Linked DNA regions of Homo sapiens. The protein of the gene in region 1 purifies or fractionates together with the protein of each later gene. This does not show direct contact. Each region holds a gene or a part of one and is shown in the gene's direction. Other genes may lie near its edges.

Region 1 (7,649 bases):
ATGTAGTAATTTTTAAAAGTCACACAAGCAGAAAAACATAAACATAGATTTGATTTTAATGTTGTTTGAACATTGCCTTTTAGCATTTTTCTTTGAATTCTAAGCTCATAATTTTATCATAAAACTGTCTTTACAGCAGACAATGACTAATTAGTAATTCTATTAAATATTTGCCAAATGGAGGGTACCACTTCTAGTTTTGCCAGAGTGTCTTGCTGGTCAGAAGTGCTTTGCCTAATAAACTCAACATGCATGTTGATGCTAAGAGTCTAACTGAACACACAGGACAATCGCAAATCTGTGAATTATTAAGCCTCCTTTCACCTCAATTTCCTCCCTCATAGGATGGTCTTTGCTTATCTCAGTTTTGTGTGTATTCCTTTTGATTGCTTGTTAATGTCTCCTATTTATAGTGATATTATGTAACAGTATTATTTAATCTCCAAAATAGTATACAATTGTCAAGTACCATTGCTGTAATTATGGTGCAGATGTTGGAATATGCTTGGAATCACTAAAAGTGAATTTACCATAAGCTAAGGAAGCTTACTCTTCAGGGACTCTGACTTGCAAGAGCCTATTTAATTTCTTATTACCTAAATTTGTAAGTTTAATTTTGCAGTATTTTTCTTTTAAAAGATCCCCCAAATTTTATGAGCTTCATTTCCAGAAAACTCATCTGGCCTTGTTTTTCATATTGTATTGTCATATTTAATTTGTTTTTATGCCTTTCTCACAATATTTTAGGTTCATGAGATCAGAGACAGTATTTTATTTGTTTCTCTACTGCCTAGCTTATTATTTATTTATTTATTTATTTATTTATTTATTTATTTATTTATTGTTATGAGACAGGGTCTCACTGTCACCCAGGCTGGAGTGCAGTGGCACATTTATGGCTTACTGCAGCCTCAACCTCCCAGGGCTCAGGTGATCCTCCCACCTCAACCTCCCAGTAGCTGGGACTACAGGGGAGCACCACTACACCTGGCTAATTTTTGTATCTTTTTTTTTTTTTTTTTTTTTTTTGTAGAGACAGGATTTCCTCATGTTGCCCAGGCTGGTCTTGAACTCCTGGGCTCAAGCAATCCACTCATCTCAGCCTCTGAAAGTGTAAGAATTACAGGCATGAGCCACCATGCCCGGCCTGTCTATCACTTAGTTCAGTAAATGCTTGGTGAATGAATGAATCATATACATTTAGTGGTTGTTTTGAAGTTGACTCTGCTGAGTGAGATTTTCTTTGCATTCATGCATCTTCATTAATGTCAACTTTGTTGCAGTTTTTAAAAAAGTAATCTTTGTTTACATTATCTTAAGTTACTTGATTTAAAAAAGTTAAAAGTGACTATTTGCAGAATTCTAAAGTCCCATTACTGTCAACATGCATAATATTTTGCCAAAAATGCAATTTGTCTTGTTAGTCTTCTTTAATTTTTCCATGTTTTAAAACTTTTCTTGGAGTATTTCCCAAATGGGATTTACTGAGAGGATATATTCAGCCAGCTTTGTAGATTCTAAGAGTCCTTCTAAAAGTTAAGTCTAGCCAAGGAAAAATGTAGTGGCACACGATTGCGTTTCTCTTACGCTGTCATTTAATGTGAGATCTAAATTTTGCATTTCTTTAATGCCCAAGGTGTTTATTTTTTAAAATCTGTACTCTTTTTATCAGGAGTTATGTTGACAATTTACCTGGGAGCTGATATACCCTATATAATACATGATCTAAGACCTGAACAATACACAAATTAATAAAATTAAACCATTAAGATATGTCATCATTTCTAAATTATACAATTGGGTTTTTTTTTTAAAGCAAAAATATTCTTCCTCTTTTCTCCATCCCTTGTTCTGGTCAGTTCCAAGGTTTTTTACAAATGCAAAAGAAATTCATTTGCTACTCCTGACCACAGAGATGAATAATTTAAGGACAATATCAAATTCTTGATAAATCTCATAAATGTTTTAACTGTCCAAGAAATGGACATTTATTTGGTTAATCTTTTAGCTGGCCATAAATAATGTAATAAAACCCCTTAAAATTAACATTAAATAACATAAAGACCTAACGATTTTTAGAAAAAAACCTTTTTGGACTGAGCCTTGAATTTCCTGAGAATTCAGCTACAAGTGATAACTAAAATGTAACTCGAGAATCTGGATATGGTTCCAGAAAGGATTGTTGTCATGCAATTGCCATTTCATCATCTTTCCTTAAAGTCCCTTCAATATTTATCATTGCAATTTTTGTCCTGTCTTTTCCCCTCCATCACATCAAACCAAGGAAAAACAATTATTAAATGCTCATTTATACTCACCTCCCTCCCTTCATATTCATTCATTCCTCAGCCCTAAAATTCCTGTAGGAATCCTGCTTTTACGTTTTATCTTAAAGCCACCATAGTATCTGTAATCTCTTTTGTAGTCATGTATGCTTAATTTTGGAAGACTGTCAACTACCTCTTCAGGTTCATTCAAATGAAAATGTATCACAAAATCGTAGGCTCTTCCCCTATCTCACTGAAAAATTACTCTAAAAATGACCAGTAAGCTGTTTTGTTGAAGCAAAACATCCAGACCCTAAACAAAAGTAGCAGAATTACAACATTTCCATAGAAATGGATTTTGAGCTTCTTTTTTTTAATTGGGGAAAATCTTATTTTTTAAAAAAGAATCCCAGAATACATCTTTGCTTTCAGTCCTTCAATTCTAACATAATGCCATGTTAGAGAATATGTGGTAGTGTATACTAAGCCCTTATGCTGTCTCACATCCTTGGGACAAAATATCTGTTTTGAAAGGACTTCTCTGAATTTTGCTATTTCCTGCTTACTGAGCAGTGGCCCCCTCCTGGGAAAACAGAGTTATTTCAGCCAGTGTTCAGACTCCATCTTGCATACGTCTCTGTGGAATATTAATAGTGCTACTGAGATATATTCATCATCTTTTCTCTGCTTTTGCTGTCTTTATAGCCCAGTGAAATTTATATTTGGTGTTTGTAGGAAGGCTATCAGAAGCTACTTGGACATCAAACTTTTAAACTATAAATAATGATGGCAAGACTGCTAGGATATCTTTCCACAGTTAAACCCATTCAACAGAGTTTCGTTCTTATGACAGTGCAAATTAAACTAGAATAAAATTAGTGTGATTTTAGGACAGTTTTAAAGTGAACATATTTCCCTCCCTCCCTTCCCATCTACATATCAAGGAGACACTCCAGACTGCACTTTTATTTAAATTGCGGCCATCAGAAAATACCGTGAGAAGGTAGTGTGTAGGTAATGGTTCAGTTAGCATTGACCCCAGAAAATGGAAAACCAAGAGCAAGTCACTTTTAAAGTGAAGCAATAGATTTTGAATATGGATTGTTCCAACTCACCACTTCCCGACCACAACACAAGAGTATTTCACTGTAAATTAAGAGTCTAAGTTAACCACAGCTGTGGTATAACTCTGAGAATGTTTTCTCTACATGTAGACAATTCTGGATCCTTCCGTGGTGCCCGTTACCCTGGTCTTTAACTTTTGTCCTTTGCAGGGGAGGGGTCAATGCCTTCTTATTTCCTTGCTCTTTAGAATTCTCCACCAGAGGGAGGACAAGGGAAGGAGTAGGTTTCACGCGCAGTTCTGAGTAAAGTTTGAATCTGAGAAACCCCACATTCACGAATTAAGGATCTCCAGTTCTGTGTCTTTATTCTACCCCTCCCTGCCTGCTTTTCCACTCGGCAGAACTGAGTGACTTTCAGCGGCTGCAGTAATTTTAATTATTCTGAGTCGTGCTCCGAACTATGTTTTTTATCAGTTCCTCTGAAAATTAAGTTGTAGTAAGAGACGTAGTTTAAGGGCACCCCCTTAGAAGAGGCCAGGTTATTTTTTAAGGAAAAGCTGAAGATTTCTAACAGGCACTTACTAAACACACACACACACACACACACACACACACACACACGCACACGGCGCAGACCCAGCAGGAGAGCGCAACCTAGCATCTTTAAGGTTCGCTTAGCCCTTCCTGTGCACCTGGAAGGAAGCCTTATCTTAAACTCCCTTCCACCTAGAGTTTATTTTCGCCTGCGTGCGACAGGGCTTTTGTACTTAAGTGAGTTAAGGAATGAACCCCGAACTCTTCTGGGAAAGCCACCAACGTTCCCCCCGCACCCCTCCCAGGGTTCCTGACCACGGAGACTCTGCTTGGGGCACAGGTGTGGGAGTCGCAAACTTTTCTCTGCGCCGTCCTTTTCCGCGTGGAATGGGACGGAGCAGCCCTCCCAGGCGCTGCCTGGCTGCGGAGGGGAGCGGGCAGCGAGAGCCTCGGGTCTCCGCCTGGGTTCCCGGGTCTCCGGGGCGCTGGCCTCGGTCTCCGCGCAGCGTCCAGCGACCCCTGTCGGGGGTTCCCGGCAGCCGCGCCGCCACCCCCCGCCCGGCCAGCGCGGGAGGAAAAGGGGCTGCGCCCGGGAGCGCCGAGCCCAGGCTCCTCCCGGTGGCGTGTCCGCGCCTCGGGGTGGGGGTGTGGTGGGGAAGAGGGAGGGGGCGAGGCCAGGGGAGGGTGCGAAGGAGGCGCCTGCCTCCAACCTGCGGGCGGGAGGTGGGTGGCTGCGGGGCAATTGAAAAAGAGCCGGCGAGGAGTTCCCCGAAACTTGTTGGAACTCCGGGCTCGCGCGGAGGCCAGGAGCTGAGCGGCGGCGGCTGCCGGACGATGGGAGCGTGAGCAGGACGGTGATAACCTCTCCCCGATCGGGTTGCGAGGGCGCCGGGCAGAGGCCAGGACGCGAGCCGCCAGCGGTGGGACCCATCGACGACTTCCCGGGGCGACAGGAGCAGCCCCGAGAGCCAGGGCGAGCGCCCGTTCCAGGTGGCCGGACCGCCCGCCGCGTCCGCGCCGCGCTCCCTGCAGGCAACGGGAGACGCCCCCGCGCAGCGCGAGCGCCTCAGCGCGGCCGCTCGCTCTCCCCCTCGAGGGACAAACTTTTCCCAAACCCGATCCGAGCCCTTGGACCAAACTCGCCTGCGCCGAGAGCCGTCCGCGTAGAGCGCTCCGTCTCCGGCGAGATGTCCGAGCGCAAAGAAGGCAGAGGCAAAGGGAAGGGCAAGAAGAAGGAGCGAGGCTCCGGCAAGAAGCCGGAGTCCGCGGCGGGCAGCCAGAGCCCAGGTGGGTGCGCAGCGCGGCCCGGGCCCCACGATCCTCCTCCTGCTCCTCCTACTCCTCCTCCTCCTCGGATGCCGTGGCCTCTCCCTCCCCCTCTCCCTCGCCCGTCCTCTTCGCCCTGCGCTCTGAGCGCCCGTTGAGTCGCGCGGTGCTTCCCCTCCTGGGGGCCGCCGCTCACCTGGGCGCCGAGTCCTACCGGGCGCCTACGCCCAGAGCTCAGGGCAAGGGACAGCAGTCCCGGCCGCACCCTCCCAGAGTCCCGGGAGCGCTTCGCTCCCTGGCACGGCCCCTCCCCAGCGCCTTAGCGGCTGAGCCCAGCCCGGGAGTGGGACCTGGGCTATAGGAGTCGAGGCTGCGTGCGCGCGTGCCCCGCGCCATAAGCGCTTTGCACGGGGGCCGTGTGCCCTCTAGCGGGAAACGCTGGAATGGGCCGCCTGGAGGGAGAGCCGGTCCCCTCGGTGTGCCTGGCAGCGCAGAAGTGGGTGGTCGAGCAAGAGGCCGCGTGGGAAGTTAGCTTCGGCGTTTTGGGGCACAGGGCAAGCGATGTAGAGTGCGCGCCGGTTCATCTTGATTCAGTCCTGTGCTACGGAGACTCAAGAGCAGCGGCAGGGATTCCTAAAGGTCAGCGAAGCAGATGAAATCTAGTCCAGTGTCAGGAATCAGCTCTGCCCCAAACAAGTTCTACAAACTTTTGGCTTAACAGTTCTATTTTTCAAGACCTCTGTGATAAATATGGATAATTTACTTTCCCAAGAGATGTAAGAAAACAACCGTTTATCTGAATTTTTGAACCCAATTGTTTGCTGGTTATCTATATAATAAAATGGCAATTGAAGCTTTCTAGAAACAAATCTTGTATTTCATCATCAGAACACGAGCATGAACAAAAGCTTTACCTTAGATGTCCCTAGGAAGCGCTGATGCTTTGGACATTACCTTGGACAAAAGAGGCATGTCGAATAAATACTTGTTTATGAGTGATTGGTAGGTAGCTGATAAAAGAGGGGAGGAAGGAGATGGGGGAGAATTTATTTTTTGCCTCTGCAATTCCCAATTATTAATTGATCCAGATGCCTTAAGTCGCTTCGAGCGTACCCCCAACACACATTTCATGAAGCACTTCTGCAGAATTAATTCACTAGTACTTGATAATACTGTGGCTACAGTAATACTGTAGAAGTATTTGTCCCTTGCTGGAAGAAAACAAACCACATTTGCTTGGTCTTCTTACTGGTATCACTGATAGCATTTCAGAACCTGGGTTATTGGCAGAGACCTTCAGCAGAGTTTTGAGCAAAACAGAAATTGAACAGAGAGTAATTGTTTCACCACTGGCCATTCTTGTGCTTGCTTCTTTAATAAGATCCTGCTGATCATATTCACTTCAATTACTGATCATTGCCCCTCATGAGGGTGTATTGAATTTTCCCTTATTTTTACCCTATATTTTGGGGAGAGACCATAGCACTTTATTCAACAAGATAGGAAATTGGGGAGCTGGATTAGTTACCTCCCTGCGTGACTTTGTCTACTGTCCTTTCTAAGGTCATCATAGTACATTACGGAGATTTCAGACCTAGCTCAAATCGTTGTAAAGAGTTATTTTGGGGGCTCTTATCACTGTTTGTGGTTGTGTTCTCCTGTCTCCCTGCTCATTGGCTTCAGAAGAAGTTTCTGTGGTCCTCTGTAGATGGTCTAATGAATTAAGAAGGGGCCAGCGGTCTGAAGTAGCATCCTGTTCAGGTAATAGGTGTGCATTTTGTCAAGGGCTCCCAGCAGCAGTACCGTAACACAGCAACTTGACAAGTTCAGTGGGGGAGGGGCAGGCATTTCTGTGCCCTCCAGATCTCATCTACTAGGTAGGCAGCTGTCTTGTGATTAGCTACGCTCTCTTGACACAGAGCACCAGAGCTTCCTTGGTGGCTCTCATCTGCTTTCCAGTGGTACAGCAGTGATTCCCTGTAAACCAGCTAAGTCAGTATCTTTAAGTGACATTTGCTTAACTGTCTTCCCTGAAAAATTGGGGTGAATTTGGCTGTAGGTTAGTTTTTAGTATATTTGTCTCTGTTTTCCACCAGATTATAATCTTTTTTGGGGAGGGACTTTTTACCCCCTTCGAAGCATCTTGTGCTTTTTAAACCAGATAAGAATATGTATTCTTTATTTGATTCAGAAAGAATGGTCAACAACTTGAAACCAGCTTTATATAGAAGCACATGGCATTAAATACAATGCTTCAGAATCAGTGTTTCTTTCCTTCTTTGTCATTTTCCTTATAATGGTAAGTGCCAGTGTAGTTTTCCTTGTCTTAGGAGAATTCATACCTGATGACTATAATGGTTTGTGAGAAAAACCCACACTCTAGGTTTCAGGCATTCCCAAAGGAACGACCTATAGATGCCATAACTCTAGTATTCACACTTGCCGTGCCAGCCCAAATTAGGACTTAGGAGGACAAGTTTCTCTTGTATTGCTCCCATCTTAGTGCCTGTCAGTTCCA
Region 2 (7,448 bases), on another chromosome or scaffold:
GGGTGGGAGCAGCAAGCACCCCATGGTTGAGTGACTTTTCTCGGACTAGAACATTTCACCCTCAAAAGAGCCGCCATCCACCCCACCCCACCCCCAGGGAACATCCCCAACAGTGGAGCTTGTCAAGCTGCTCAGTGCCCTCTCTGGTGGCTCCCCCGACCCGGCCGAGTCGGAACCCCTCTGGGCAGTGAATGACAGCCATCTGGGAGGAGACCCACTGGCCACCGGAAGCTGCGAGCAGTCACCCCCCACCCCATCCAGGCTGTGATCCCGCCTCCACCCTAGTCGTCTAAAGACATGTCCCTTGGGAAGTTTCAAGCAGAAGAACCAGGACGATGCCCTTGGGGCAACGTTACCAGGTCCCTGTCCTGCCTCCCAAGCTGGCAGAACCCGCCAGGCCTGCCCACAGTCCCGCTGCCCGGGGAGGAGGGTGGGCTCCACTGGACAGACTCCGAATCCCGGCCAGGCAGCAGTCCAAGCCCCCCACTTGCCAACAACCCCACGTCACACGCGAGGGCAGGGGGCCAGCCAGGGGGAGGTCACCGAGCCAGCAGGGCGGGGGGGGCGGGCAAGGGCCGGGGAAGCCCAGGACCACGCTGCCCCTACGAATTGCTCAGGTTCTCCTCTTCTGTTTATCCTACCCTCTTCCCCTAAGGACTGAAGCGGGCCTGGAGGGCCTAGAGAAAGGGCACAAAGAACAGCGAGGCCCTGGGCGGGCGTGGAGGGAGGGGAATGGCCCTTCCGAAGCCCCGGGCCTCTTCCAGCGCGGTCCTCGAACCGAACCGCAGGACCCCTGCTGTCCCCGGGCAGCGGCCGGAGCGCGTCCCTCGGGTCCTGGGAAGACCTGCCGCGTCTGCGGGCTGCCTGGGAGCCCAGGCGCCCCGCGGTGCTGGGGGAGGAGCCCGGCACGGGGCCGCTGGGCGGCAAAGGGGCCGCGGGCTCCCTGGAGGAGGCGGCTGCGGACGGGGCCTGGCGACCTCGGAGAAGGTGGCGTCCACGGCGCGCAGCCCGGCGCCCCAAGCCTGCCGCCGGGTCGGGGTCGGGGCCGGGGCCGGGCCCCGCGGGTCCGCGCGAGCCGGAGTCCCCTCTAAAAGTTTGTCCCCAAACGAAACCCCTCTCTCTGCCCCGCGTGGGCAGCGGGGCCAGCCCCACGGGAGGCTCTGAGGACAGACACGACTGCCCTCCTCCACCCCTTGGCAAACAACAATGGGCGGCCGCCGGACGAACGACGAGGGAAGCGAGTGTGGAAAATCCCCCAATTTTTTGCAAAGTCAACCGCGGGCGCTCGGGGGCCGGGCCGCGTGCTGCCCCCGCGCGGCCGTCCGCGGGACTGTGCGCCGGGAGGGGGCGCCGCTGTTGATCTCGTGGTTCTCAGACTCTGAGACCGCACGGTGGGCCGGGAATGAGGCTTCATTCCTGAAGCCGAATGTTAATGCCTCTTCTGGGATCATCACAGCCTGCCACTAAGCCGTGTTCTTTTACTTTTCTTTGCCATTAAGTCAGAGATCACGCATTAAAGAATTGGTGAAGTGGATCTTCAGGGGACAAAGCCACTGAGCAGAAGAGCTGCCAGTGCTTTTCCTTGGACCCCACAAGCAGTCAGGGCCAGAAGCTGCCCCTAGCAAACACTTAGCTCATATGCACTCTCGGGGCTGGGGCAAACCTTGGCCACGCAGGAGATCACCCAGGGAAGAAAGGAAACAGCGCGCAGAGCGCGCCTCCTGAGACCCTGGCTGTGTCCGCTGACCTCCTGGAACCCCACGCCAGCCCCAGACTGTGCGTTTCTATCCATTTTCCAAGACATGACACTGAGGACTCATCGCGGGGAGTAGCGGGAAGTGGTGGGGAGTAGCGTGATGCAAGCTGCCCCGCCAACGAGGGCTCGAGCTGCCTTCCACTCGGCTCAAGTGTCCACTGATTGATGGGTGGCTCATCTGACTTGACTTTCAGAGCCCAGAAACTCACCTACAGCCTTAGGGTCTCAGGTGCCTGTGCAGGGCTTCAATCAAAGTGGAAGACTGAGCAAAGTCCTGTAGCCAGCCAGGCAGATTTCCCTCCTCTTAAAAGAATTCTAGAAAGAAAGGGCTTCCTGGCTAATGTGAGTGCTTCCCATCAGCCAGTGTGGCAGGTATGAAGTTGGATTAAATAGCTTGTTCTGGGAGATGTTGCTCCATGGGTCAGGCTGCTCTGGCTCCCATTCAAGGGTGGGACCTTATCACAGGCACTTCGTCCCTGCCTGGGCCTCAGTTTCCCCCTTGGGACAGTGAGATCATCACAGGGTGGAGCCATGGCCCAAGTACCGATGGCTTCGTTGGCCTTCGGAGCTGCTCCAGCTTTCCCTTGAACACTCTGGGCCCACGTTCCCCCTTGGTGGCAGTGACGGTCACCAGGCTCTCAGGAGTGGCCCCTGTAGACGCTCTCATCCCTGGCCTAGGGAGCTGGGGCAAGTGCAGAGGTGGGGAAGGGGAGGGTTCTGGGGCTCACAGCAGGAATCAGGATCCCAGCTCTGCTGACTCTCATGGGGTGAGAGTGGTTGACCTTGGAACCAGGGTCTTAACCCCTTTGAACCTCAGTTTTCTCTTCTGTAAATGGATATCACAGCCTACCCCCGCAGATTTGCTGATGGAATTGGAAATGACACCTCTACAATGCCTGGCACCCAGCAGGTCTCCAAAAGAGCAGCCTTAATTATGATGTAGCACGAGGATCCTTATCTGGGTAAGGACATCTGGGGGGTGGACCCGGGGCAGCTGTGCTCCCCTAGGCCACACAGGAAGGCTCCCCAGGGCTCAGGCACAGACTGCGTCAAGGGGCTGCAGGCAGGTCCAAGCACACTGCAGGGCGGCCCCACCTGTGTCCCATGGGGACTGCACCCCCACTCCTATAGGAATGAGTCACTTCTGGAGAAGCTTGTCCAAGCTGCCCCCAGGACCCTCGGGCCAGGGACAGTTTTAAAGCAGCCTACAAGATGAGCAGGGGCTTTGGGGCCCTAGGTCCCACTGAGGACCCCACACCATGGACTCCAGGGTGCGCTGGGCTGTGTTGAGGGTTCTGCACCCGCCTGTCCACAGCGGATATTCTTGCGGTCCCTTTGGAAAATGCATGCCGCCCGCTCAGCTGGGTTTGGGGTGTTGGTTTTTCCAGCTCTCTGGGTTTGCTTCCAGGAGGGCTTTCTGGTGTGATGTTGTCTACGTTTAACAGCTTTACTGAGGCATAATTGACACCCCATGATCGCTTCCGGTCCCTAACAGAACGGAAGGCAGGGCACCACCCCGCCTCCCCCCCCACCCCGTCCCCGGCAGGGCTTGACGTGGACACTGGGAGCCCACGCCTGGCAGCCAGACTCGCTCCCAGAGCCCTCGCTGGCCTGAACCAACACACTAGGGCCCACCGCGGCCGGCCCTGCAGCTGTGAGATCCTGGCAGGTCCCAGCCCCACTCCTGCGCTTCCGACGGGCTGCAGCCTCCGAGTACTGCCAGAGCCCAAGCAGTGTGAGTGGGCACCTGGCGGGACCCCCCGCCCCACGAATGCCGCGCGTGCTTGCCAGGCTGGGCGGCGGCGAGTGAGGAGCCCGCACCACCCGGCCCACACACGAGCCAACGTGGAGCGAGCCCTCCGCAGCCAGGTTGGGCCCGGGCCGCTGGACTCTCCAACCAACCCACGAAAGACAGAATATTTGGTGGGCACTCACGATTCTTAAGAATTGGCTCAATGTTTTATAACTCTTTCATTGGAGTATAATAAACATGGATGGGGGAAAATGCACCTCGTCTGATATTCTTTTCAAACAAGGAGGAAGCCATAAAGCCGCTCCGCAGGCCTCTGCAGACAGCCCAACATCTCTTCAATGCGGGGCTGCGGGGCACTGTCCCAAAGCCAGCCGCAGGGGTGAGGGGGTCGAGCAGGAAAGGAAAGCCTCGCTTTCCCTCTCGGTCCTGGTGGTGGGCGGCCCCCGCCGCCCTGGTCCCTGGAAGTGCAGCCCAGTAGGCTAGCGTCTAACTTCAGCGCCCCAGCGTGCAAGGTCAAGGCCTTTCCTCCCGCGCGGGCTGCGGGGACGTGGGCGGCTGGGACTTGGGGAGGAGGGGGTACGGACCCAGGCTCCAGAAGCGCCAGCCGCCGCGCCCCCTCACCGCGGCCCCCGCCAGGAGAGCCTCCCACGCCTCGGCTCCGCACTGCCGGTTGGTCCCCCACTCCCCTGAGGGCGGAATCACTTCCCAGTCGCTGGCTGCCCGCCTGCTAGCGGCCTCGCCACCGCAGCAGACCCAGGTCCCGCGCCCAGCACCCGCGGCGAACCCCGGCACTCCGGAGGCGGGGCCGAGGATCGGCGCGGGCGGCGACGGCAAGAGACGCCACGGGGGCGGGCCAGGGGCGGACCGGGGCGGGGCGGCGGCGGCGGACTGCGGAGACGCGGCGGCGCGCGGGGCGGCGCAGAGCGTTCTCGGCGCGGAGTGGAGCGGAGCGGGCTGGTGCTGGGGGCGCGGAGAGCGCTGTGCTGGCCGGGGCCGGGAGCGGGGCCGAGCGGGAGCGGAGTCGGGCGTCGGGCCCGGGGAGCCGGGGCCGGGCGGGGAGCAGCCATGGCACCGCGGAGGGTCGGGGCCCGCGCCGCTGCGGGCGGCCTGGGCGCCGAGTAGCCGGGCCGGGCCGGAGCGCGGGCGGCGGCGGAGGCAGCTGCGCCCGCGCCTCCTGCCCTCCCAGGCCCCGCGCCCCGCGCCCGGGCCCCGGCGATGGTGACACATGCGGCGGCGGCGCGCCGGCGGCAGGACCATGGTTGAGCGCGCCAGCAAGTTCGTGCTGGTGGTGGCGGGCTCGGTGTGCTTCATGCTCATCTTGTACCAGTACGCGGGCCCAGGACTGAGCCTGGGCGCGCCCGGCGGCCGCGCGCCGCCCGACGACCTGGACCTGTTCCCCACACCCGACCCCCACTACGAGAAGAAGTACTACTTCCCGGTCCGCGAGCTGGAGCGCTCGCTGCGCTTCGACATGAAGGGCGACGACGTGATCGTCTTCCTGCACATCCAGAAGACGGGCGGCACCACCTTCGGCCGCCACCTCGTGCAGAACGTACGCCTCGAGGTGCCGTGCGACTGCCGGCCCGGCCAGAAGAAGTGCACCTGCTACCGGCCCAACCGCCGCGAGACTTGGCTCTTCTCCCGCTTCTCCACCGGCTGGAGCTGCGGGCTGCACGCCGACTGGACCGAGCTCACCAACTGCGTGCCCGGCGTGCTGGACCGCCGCGACTCCGCCGCGCTGCGCACGCCCAGGTGAGCGCCCGGGCGGCGGGATCCTCGCGCAGCTGCGCCCCCGAGGCCGGGCCGTATGCCCGCCGTGCTGTACTGGGTCGGCCCTGCCTTCCCTACCCCCTTCTGCCCTCTTGGGGGCCCCCACTCGCCGGCACCCCTCCCGACCTGCCGAGCGCCCGAGGCTCCCAGCTCCTCTGGGTGAGCCGGCTGTCACCGCGCTTTCTGACCTCGCTCTCACTCTCTTCCTTGCCTTGTGCTGCCCTACTGCCGGCTTGACTGCGCAGCGCCCGGGTTTTCTCCAGGGTCCCCGCCCGCTGCCCTCGGGCCACCTTACCTGCTGTGCGCCGTGAGGTCTGGCCCGCCGGACTTGGGGACGCGGGCTTCTGGGTGTGTGCGTGGCCTACCTGGAGTGTTGGCTTCCCCGTGCCGCTTCGGTGCTGTGGTCCCAAAAGTGGAAGTGAGAGTAGTGAGGTGCCGCCCCTGTGCCTGGAGTGCCTGCCTTCAGAGGGTGGGGGAGCTGCCAGGGAAGGGGGCTGGCTCTGCCCGCCTGCCTGCCGGTGTGTGCAGGTAGAACAAAGGCCCTGTTGACCTGGGGCTGGGGGCGGGGAGGAGGCAGTACCGCCTGTCCTCCCAGTGGGGCCTGCCAGCCGAATTCTTCCAGGCACAGGCTTGCCTGGAGAGAGGAACAAAAGCCACCCGATGGGGGACCACCTTCCCCAGGAAGCTACCAGCCAGGTTGGGGGTAGTTGAGCTGGTCCAGGGAACCTGTGCTGCCACACCCCTTCTCTGGGGTCCCCCAGCCCCATGTCAGAGCTGAGCTGCGTGAGGACACAGAGCATGGGAGGGGTGCCGGGGCAGCTCTTCTGGGAAGCCGTTTGTAGGGGAACCTGGGGTGCTGCTGGGTTTCCAGCAGTTAAAGTTGGGGTTATTTTCCTCCTGTTCCTGTTGGTGCCCATTCGTCCTGCAGGGATGCCCTGCGGGGCCTTTCTCCCCAAAGTCTGGGCTGGGAAGGGCCAGGAGCAGGGCTTCTTGTCTGCCTTTTGTTTCTCTTCCAAATTTGCCTTAGGACTGAATTTGCAGACAGGCTGGTGGTAGGAGGCTGGGCGGTTGTAGGCGTGTTGGCTGGCACTCTTGGGTCCAGAGGCTGTAGGCTCTCAGGTGTGCCTGGGGAGCCTGGAAGGTCCAGCCAGCCTGGAGCTGAGCAGAGTCCGAGACACTGCTCCCCTGCACAGACCTCAATCCTTGCTCTGTGGTCTTTCTCAGGCTGTCAGGAAATTGGGGTCCTAGAGTTGGAGGGGCATCTTCCCACTTTTCTTTCTCCCCCCTCCCCCAACTGTACACACACACACCCACACACACACACACACTGCAGCTCCCAGCCTGGGAGGTGATGTTCTGAGCCTCTTACAGCCACATTCTACACTTGGCGGTCACAGAGCTGCCTGTCTAGGGCCCCTGAAGGATTGCTTCCGGCCCAGCACTTAGTCTGCTCTGCACAGATGCACGTTCCTGCTGCAGGGCCCCCCTAACCCTGGTCCAGCTTCTCTGTGCTAGGCTCAGCTGTGCCTGGGACCACAGCCATGCCCCCACCCACCCTTCCACCAGTCAGAGCAGTAGGCTCCCAGAGTTGGTCACTGACCAATACCAACAGACGCCTCCCTACCTGTGGGGGGTGCAAGGATGGGGGTCACCCCCTTTGCCAGAGGGACTTAGCTCGGCAGCCTAAGAGGATTGCGTGGAAGCTTCGGGCCGCCAAGAAGCCGGAGCTTTTGAAACAAGCCTGCTCAGCAGAGGCCACCTCAGCCCTAGATTGCAACCAGGATGCTCTTCCTGCAGCCCCGCACGCCTGTGGGTCCCCAGGGTGAAGAGCCTTGGCCTCCTTTCTCTGGAGTTTGTCCATGAGAGTGGGAGGACCAGGTGGGGCCGATGGGGCCCCAGGTGCTACACCAGGAAGGCCCGGCTCCCCCTGCCCAGGGAGCATGTGTGGAGCAAGAATGGAAAACGCAGATGCCTCTGGCGGAGGTGGGCTGCCAGCCTGGAAATTGCTAGCTCAGCAGCATGCGCCAGGGTTGGGAGGGGCTTCCAGGGCCGTCAGGAGGCCCCCTCTGCCACCCACTCTGGAAGTGGGTTGTGCTACCGGGCAGGTGACAGCACCCCACCCTCCGAGTCCCTCTTCTCCGCCTCCACTCCCTTCAGTTCTGTTGCAGG
Region 3 (7,025 bases), on another chromosome or scaffold:
GCACTTGGCTCCATGCTGAACATGGAAGGTGCTGAAGGAACAGGAAACTGATGATTCACTGAATACTCCTAGTGTGTTTAGTAGCACATTGGGCACTGTAAGTGTATGGGAGATGAATCTGACAAAGATTTTGCCTAAAGGAGCTCAGAGTCCTTTTCTTTTCTTTTCTTCTTTTTTTTTTTTTTTTTTTTTTTTTGAGACGGAGTTTCGCTGTTGTTGCCCAGGCTGGAGTGGAATGGCGCAATCTTAGCTCACTGCAACCTCCGCCTTCCAGTTTCAAGCGATTCTCCTGCCTCAGTCTCCCGAGTAGCTGGGATTACAGGTGTGTGCCGCCATGTCCGGCTAATTTTGTATTTTTAGTGGAGACAGGGTTTCACCATGTTGGTCAGGCTAGTCTCGAACTCCTGACCTCAAATGATCCACTCGCCTCAGCCTCCCAAAGTGCTGGGATTACAGGCGTGAGCCACCGCGCCCGGCCAGGAGCTGAGAGTCTTAATCCAGTAGTGGAGATGAACCACAGGGATACATGAGTGCTTCAAGGGGAGGAAAGACTTCAGTGCAGACACAGTATAGGGACAGGGGCATGTGTGAGCAGAGCAAGAGGGCTCACATACCACTCTCTTATCCCCAGGGACTGTCCCACTTCCCTTCTCGGGGTCCTGTCCTACTCCTGTAGGTAATTTCCTGGCCTGACTCAGCTGGAGGCCGATGAAGGTCAGAGAATGAGGACAGTCTCTGTGGAAAGAAATGGGCAGCGGGAGGTGGGTATGAAAAAAGCCTGCATATGGGCAAGGGGCCCACATGACCCCCAGGCCTCTGCCCCCTGACAGAACTTCCATCTGATCGACTTCAACTTGCTGATGGTGACCACCATCGTTCTGGGCCGCCGCTTCATTGGGTCCATCGTGAAGGAGGTGATTGGGTCCTAGAGGCTGGCCAGGGACTTTGGGATTCCCCTTTTCCCCTGGGGATGCCAAGGAAACATGCCCAGCCCTTCAGCCTTAGGGTATTTCCTTGGGGCTCCCTTTGGACTTGGTTGAAGAACATTAGTTACATCCCATCTTGGAGTTTACTGGGCATCAAAGAGAAGGATTTACCTTGCCAGGTTCTGCCCAGCCTGCTGTGCCACCTCTCCCTGGGTGGGATCACAGGTCATGCTGGGTGGGATTTGGGCACAGCCCCTTCGGCCTCCATCCAAGGCCCCATCCCGTCCTATCTTGCCCCGACCCAGGCCTCTCAGAGGGGGAAGGTCTCCCTCTTTCGCTCCATCCTGCTGTTCCTCACTCGCTTCACCGTTCTCACGGCAACAGGCTGGAGTCTGTGCCGATCCCTCATCCACCTCTTCAGGACCTACTCCTTCCTGAACCTCCTGTTCCTCTGCTATCCGTGAGTACCCCTCACTTCACCCCTCACTGCCCAGCACCTGGCCCCTGACCTCTGCCCTGACCGTAGCTGGCTCACCAGGCCTCCATATCTGGAAGATCGGAGGCAGGCAGCAACATCCTCTCACATTGTCAGATGACACTCACTCACTGAGGTCAGGATAATTAGCCTTTTTTTGCAGACGAAACTGAGGTGGCATAATTTACCCAGCTCTCACTATGGGGGAGGTCAGAATGGGACTCAGATCTGCATATATATCCCAAAGGAACATTCCCAAGAGGGAATGTATGGGCTTTGTCTCCCTCGCTCTTCCTTTCCCCTCCCTCTGGTTCTTTCCCTTTCTCTGTGTCTCTCTTTGTGTATCTCAGTGTTTGTGTAATCTCTTGGTATCTCCCTGAGTCTGTGTGCCAGCAAACAGCTGCATGGTTGCATGTCTCTGTGTGGGTGTCTATGCATGAAGCGTGTGGGTGTCTATGCATGAAGCATGTGTGTGTGCCTGCATATGCATGTGTGTATGCCTTTGTGCCTGTTTTTGCTCTCTTTCTCCGTCTCACCAGACCCTAGATTGTTGAGGATGGAGAGACTGTTTCGGGGATGTGCCCAGGACTGCCCATTTCTCGCCTTGCATCAGGGAGAACTTTGGTGAGGTGTTGGATCTGGCTGCTTCTGGGGCAGGCTGCTGGCTGCCTGAGCATTAACAGTCGTTTCCCAACCCCCAGGTTTTCTGGTTCACAAAATTCCTCAAGCTGGGTCAATCCTGGTCTCTGGGAAGCTTCAGAGCTGGCACCTCCCCCTTTCTACCCTGCATGTCCAAAAAGGCACTGGCATGGGAGCCCTGTCACACTTCCTTCAGTTATATCTACTTTTTAATTATAAGAGTGACATGTGGCCAGGCACAGTAGCACAAACCTGTAATCCCAGCACTTTGGAGGCCAAGACAGGCAGATTGCTTGAGTCCAGGGGTTTGAGACCAGCCTAGGCAACATGGCGAAATCCTGTCTACTAAAAACATAAAAAACTAGCCAGGTGTGGTGAGGCACGCCTATAGTCCCAGCTACTCAGGAAGCTGAGGTGGGAGAATCACCTGAGCTCAGGAGGTCGAGGCTGCAGTGAGCCGAAATTGTGCCACTGTACTCTAGCTTAAGCAACTGGAGTGAGGTCCTGTCTTTAAAAAAAAAAAACATTATAATGTCTTATAAAAACATTAAACTTTACAGAAGCTTTTAACATGGAAAAAGAAAGTCCCACATAGTCTTATTCCCCCAGAAATCCATTACTGGCAGCAATTTTCCCAAAATATTTTCTGTGCAAGTACACACACATGCAGTTTTTTTGTTTGTTTGTTCTTGAGACAGTCTGATGTCACCCGGGCTGGAGTGCAGTGGCACGATCTCGGCTCACTGCAACCTCTGCCTCCTGGATTCAAGCAATTTTCCTGCCTCAGCCTCCCAAGTAACTGGGATTACAGGTGCCCACCACCACGCCTGGCTACTTTTTGTATTTTTAGTAGAGTTGGGGTTTCATCATGTTGGCCAGGCTGGTCTCGAACTCCTGGCCTCAAGTGATCTGCCCACCTTGTCCTCCCAAAGTGCTGGGATTACAGATGTGAGCCACTGTGCCTGGCCACATGCAGTTTTTTAAAAAAGAAAAATGGTATTATGCTATGCATGATGTACAATTTACCACACTTTTCACTTAATCATATAACAGATATTTTTCTATGCCAATACATACGGGTCTGTCTCATTATTTTATTTTATTTTAGAGATGAGGGTCTTGCTGTATTGCCCAGGCTGGAGTGCAGTGGCTATTCACAGGTCTGTTCCCACTACTGATCAACACAGGAGTTTTAACCTGTTCTATTTCTTTCTTTTTTTTTTTTTTTTTGAGATGGAGTCTCGCTCTGTCGCCCAGGCTGGAGTGCAGTGGCACAATCTTGGCTCACTGCAAGCTCCACCTCCCGGGTTCACACCATTCTCCTGCCTCAGCCTCCTGAGTAGCTGGGACTACAGGCGCCTGCCACCACACCTAGCTAATTTTTTGTATTTTTAGTAGAGACAGGGTTTCACCGTGTTAGCCAGGATGGTCTCAATCTCCTGACCTCATGATCTGCCCGCCTCGGCCTCCCAAAGTGCTGGGATTACAGGCATGAGCCACCGCGCCTGGCCAACCTGTTCTATTTCTAACCTGGACCAGTTCATCCCCTCCTTAGGCAATTATGTGGTCCCCCACTCCCAGGAGTTCACCATATGGATGCTGAACTTCTATGCAGGCACCTCATCGGCATAGCACATTATAGCATAGAATTCCTCGGCTCAAGCAATCCTCCCACCTCAGCCTTCTGAGTAGCTGGGACTATGGGCATGCGCCATCATGACCTGCTGCCTCATTTTTTTAATGGCCTCGCAGTATTCTATGTTATAGAATTTTCACAATTTATTTGTCTTCTATTGGCAATTTTTTTTTTTTTCTGAGATGGAGTCTTGCTCTGTTGCCCAGGCTGGAGTGCAGTGGTGCAATCTTGGCTCACTGCAGCCTCCAACTCCCGGGTTCAAGCAGTTCTCCTGCCTCAGCCTCCCAAGTAGCTGAGACTACAGGCATGCTCCACCAAGCCCAGCTAATTTTGTATTTCTAGTAGAGATGGGGTTTCTCCATGTTGGTCAGGCTGGTCTCAGGTGATCCGCCTGCCTTGGCCTCCCAAAGTGCTGGGATTACAGACATGAGCCACCATGCTCGGCAATTTTTTGTATTCTTAGTAGAGATGGGGTTTCACCGTGTTAGCCAGGATGGTCTCGATCTCCTGACCTCGTGATCCGCCCACCTTGGTCTCCCAAAGTGCTGTGATTACAGGCGTGAGCCACCGTGCCTGGCCTACTGGCAAACTTTTAAGTTGTTTCTAGCTTTTCCTTATTCATAACAATGAATAATTGCATATGTGTCCAGTATCTCTGCACAGTAGATTCCCAGAAGAATTAACTACACCAAAAGATGGATTCATTTAGATTTTTCATAGTTATTAACAAATTGTCCTTCGAAAGGGTTGCACTGGTTAGAACTTAAGAGTTGCCTGTCGGACGCGGTGGCTCATGCCTGTAATCCCAGCACTTTGGGAGGCTGAGGCGGGTGGATCACGAGGTCAGGAGATTGAGACCATCCTGGCTAACACAGTGAAACCCCGTCTCTACTAAAAAAATACAAAAAACTAGCCGGGCATGGTGGATGGCACTTGCAGTCCCAGCTACTCGGGAGGCTGAGGCAGGAGAATGGTGTGAACCTGGGAGGCGGAGCTTGCAGTGAGCCAAGATCGCACCACTGCACCACTGCACTCCAGCCTGGGCAACAGAGTGAGACTCTGTCTCAAAAAAAAAAAAAAAAAAAAGAGTTGCCTTAATTTGACAGTTTATGGTTACTACCTGGTGAATCTTTTCTTCATGGATGCAGATAACACCCAATGTCATATTATGCTTTATTTTTCATTATTTAATTTAAAAATGTTTATTGACCAAATATAAACATATTGTAAAAAATTAAATCCAATAGTGCTGAAAAGCTTATAATGAAAACCATTGCTGGGCACGGTAGCTCATGCCTGTGATCTCAGTGACTTGGGAGGCTGAGGTGAGAAGATTGCTTTAGCTGGTGGATTTGAGGCCGAAGTGAGCCATGATCACACCAGTGCACTTCAGCGTGGACAACAGAGTGAGACCCTGTCTCTAAAAATAAATAAATAAATAAATAGAAAAACATTAGTCTCCAATCCCGCCTCCAGATTTTTAGTCCCACTCTTCATAGAAAAACATTAGTCTCCAATCCCGCCTCCAGATTTTTAGTCCCACTCTTCAATAGCAGTCTCTTTTACTTTCTGGGTTTTTTTATTTGTTTGTTTGTTTGTTTGTTTGTTTACAGACAGAGTCTGTAAACCTATTATCCAGTTCTAAAGTGGCACTGCACTCCAGCCTGAGTGACAAGACCCTGAGTCAGGGTCTGGCTCTGTTGCCCAGGCTGGAGTGCAGTGGTGCAATCTCGGCTCACTGCAACCTCTGCCTCCCAGGCTCAAGCCGTCCTCCCACTTCAGCCTTCTGAGTAGTTGGAACTACAGGCATCAGCCACTGTACCTAGCCTGCTTATTCTTTTTAAAAATTTATTTATTGGCCAAGCGTGGTGGCTCACGCTTGTAATCCCAGCACTTTGGAAGGCCAAGGTGAATGGATCACTTGAGGTCAGGAGTTCAAGACCAGCCTGGCCATCATGGTGAAACCCTTTCTCTACTAAAAATACAAAAATTAGCCAGGTGTGGTGGTGCACGCCTGTAGTCCCAGCTACTTGGGAGGCTGAGGCAGGAGAATTGCTTGAAACTGGGAGGTGGAGGTTGCAGCGAGCTGAGTTTGCACCACTGCACTCCAGCCTGGGCAATAGAGTGAGACTCTGTCTCAAAAAAAAGAAAATTATTGATTTATTTTAGAATTGAATAAGAGGTTTACATAGTTAAAATTCAGAAGGTTTAAAAGAGTATACCATGAAAAAGTCTCCCCTTGACTGCTGCCTCCCAGCCACCCAGTTTCCTTTCCAAGAGGTAATTATCAATGTTTTTGGTTTCTTGTATATCCTGGAAACAAATGTTCTACGCATATACAAACATACCACATACACACATATGCAAGTATATTGATTCCCTGCAATGACAGATGATTTAGCTCACGATCCCATCCTTACTGTTCCCAGTAATTGATAGCTTTTAATATTTTTAAGTTTCTGTTGGTTATTTTCATCAATAGTATAAGTATCCCTATACTTTTTTTTTCCATCAACAATAGTATCTTGAATACTTTTTATGTAAGACAAGAATATTAGGCACCCTATCCAACCACTTTTCCTCCCCTCTTCCTCTTTTCACTTCCTGGCAGCTGTATTTTTACTTTTATATCGTCAAGCTTGACATTCACATTCTCCTATGTAACCACATTTAAGCCTTCCATTCTTTGTCTAAGCCTAATTCTGAAAATTAAAAACCAGTATGTGGCTTTGATATAATTATGTGTATGAAAATATCATTCACTCCAGGGCCCAGTAGTATGCATACATGACATTTCTTCTCTGTAGTTACAGAGTTACAGTCTTGGACCTCTTTATTTATTTATTTTTATTTTTATTTTTTTTGAGATGGAGTCTCTCTCTGTCACCCAGGCTGGAGTGCAGTGTCACAATCTCAGCTCACTGCAACCTCCGCCTCCCAGGTTCAAGCAGTTCTCCTGCCTCAACCTCCCGAGTAGCTGGGATTACAGGTGTGCACCACCACGCCCAGCTAATTTTTTGTATTTTTAGTAGAGATGGGGTTTCGCCATGTTTGCCAGGCTGGTCTCGAACTCCCAACCTCAAGTGATCCATTCATCTTGGCCTCCCAAAGTGCTGGGATTACAGGCATGAACCACCAAGCCCAGCCAGGAACTTTTTTTGTTTTTTGTTTTTTGTTTTTTTTTGAGACGGAGTCTCGCTCTGTCGCCCAGGCTGTAGTGCAGTGGCACGATCTCAACTCACTGCAAGCTCTGCCTCCTGGGTTCACGCCATTCTCCAGCCTCAGCCTCCCGAGTAGCTGGGACTACAGGCACCCGCCACCACGCCTGGCTAGTTTTTTGTATGTTTAG

The links.
Region 2: the proteins of NRG1 (region 1) and HS6ST1 purify together in Homo sapiens (affinity purification with mass spectrometry; 3 studies listed by BioGRID and IntAct, with this or other methods). This does not show direct contact.
Region 3: the proteins of NRG1 (region 1) and TMEM39B purify together in Homo sapiens (affinity purification with mass spectrometry; 3 studies listed by BioGRID and IntAct, with this or other methods). This does not show direct contact.

Annotation. Positions count from the first base shown.
Region 1 is NC_000008.11:32,543,675-32,551,323, forward strand, and holds the start of NRG1 (pro-neuregulin-1, membrane-bound isoform isoform HRG-alpha proprotein), read left to right. Parts: upstream 1-4,636; 5' UTR 4,637-5,052; coding exon 5,053-5,152; intron 5,153-7,649. UniProt on the Homo sapiens protein: Direct ligand for ERBB3 and ERBB4 tyrosine kinase receptors. Concomitantly recruits ERBB1 and ERBB2 coreceptors, resulting in ligand-stimulated tyrosine phosphorylation and activation of the ERBB receptors.
Region 2 is NC_000002.12:128,315,850-128,323,297, reverse strand, and holds the start of HS6ST1 (heparan-sulfate 6-O-sulfotransferase 1), read left to right. Parts: upstream 1-4,429; 5' UTR 4,430-4,734; coding exon 4,735-5,261; intron 5,262-7,448. UniProt on the Homo sapiens protein: 6-O-sulfation enzyme which catalyzes the transfer of sulfate from 3'-phosphoadenosine 5'-phosphosulfate (PAPS) to position 6 of the N-sulfoglucosamine residue (GlcNS) of heparan sulfate.
Region 3 is NC_000001.11:32,075,933-32,082,957, forward strand, and holds part of TMEM39B (transmembrane protein 39B), read left to right. Parts: intron 1-303; exon of another isoform or gene 304-322; intron 323-457; exon of another isoform or gene 458-708; coding exon of another isoform or gene 709-714; intron 715-830; coding exon 831-914; intron 915-1,231; coding exon 1,232-1,386; intron 1,387-7,025. UniProt on the Homo sapiens protein: May protect the cells against DNA damage caused by exposure to the cold-warming stress and facilitates tissue damage repair during the recovery phase.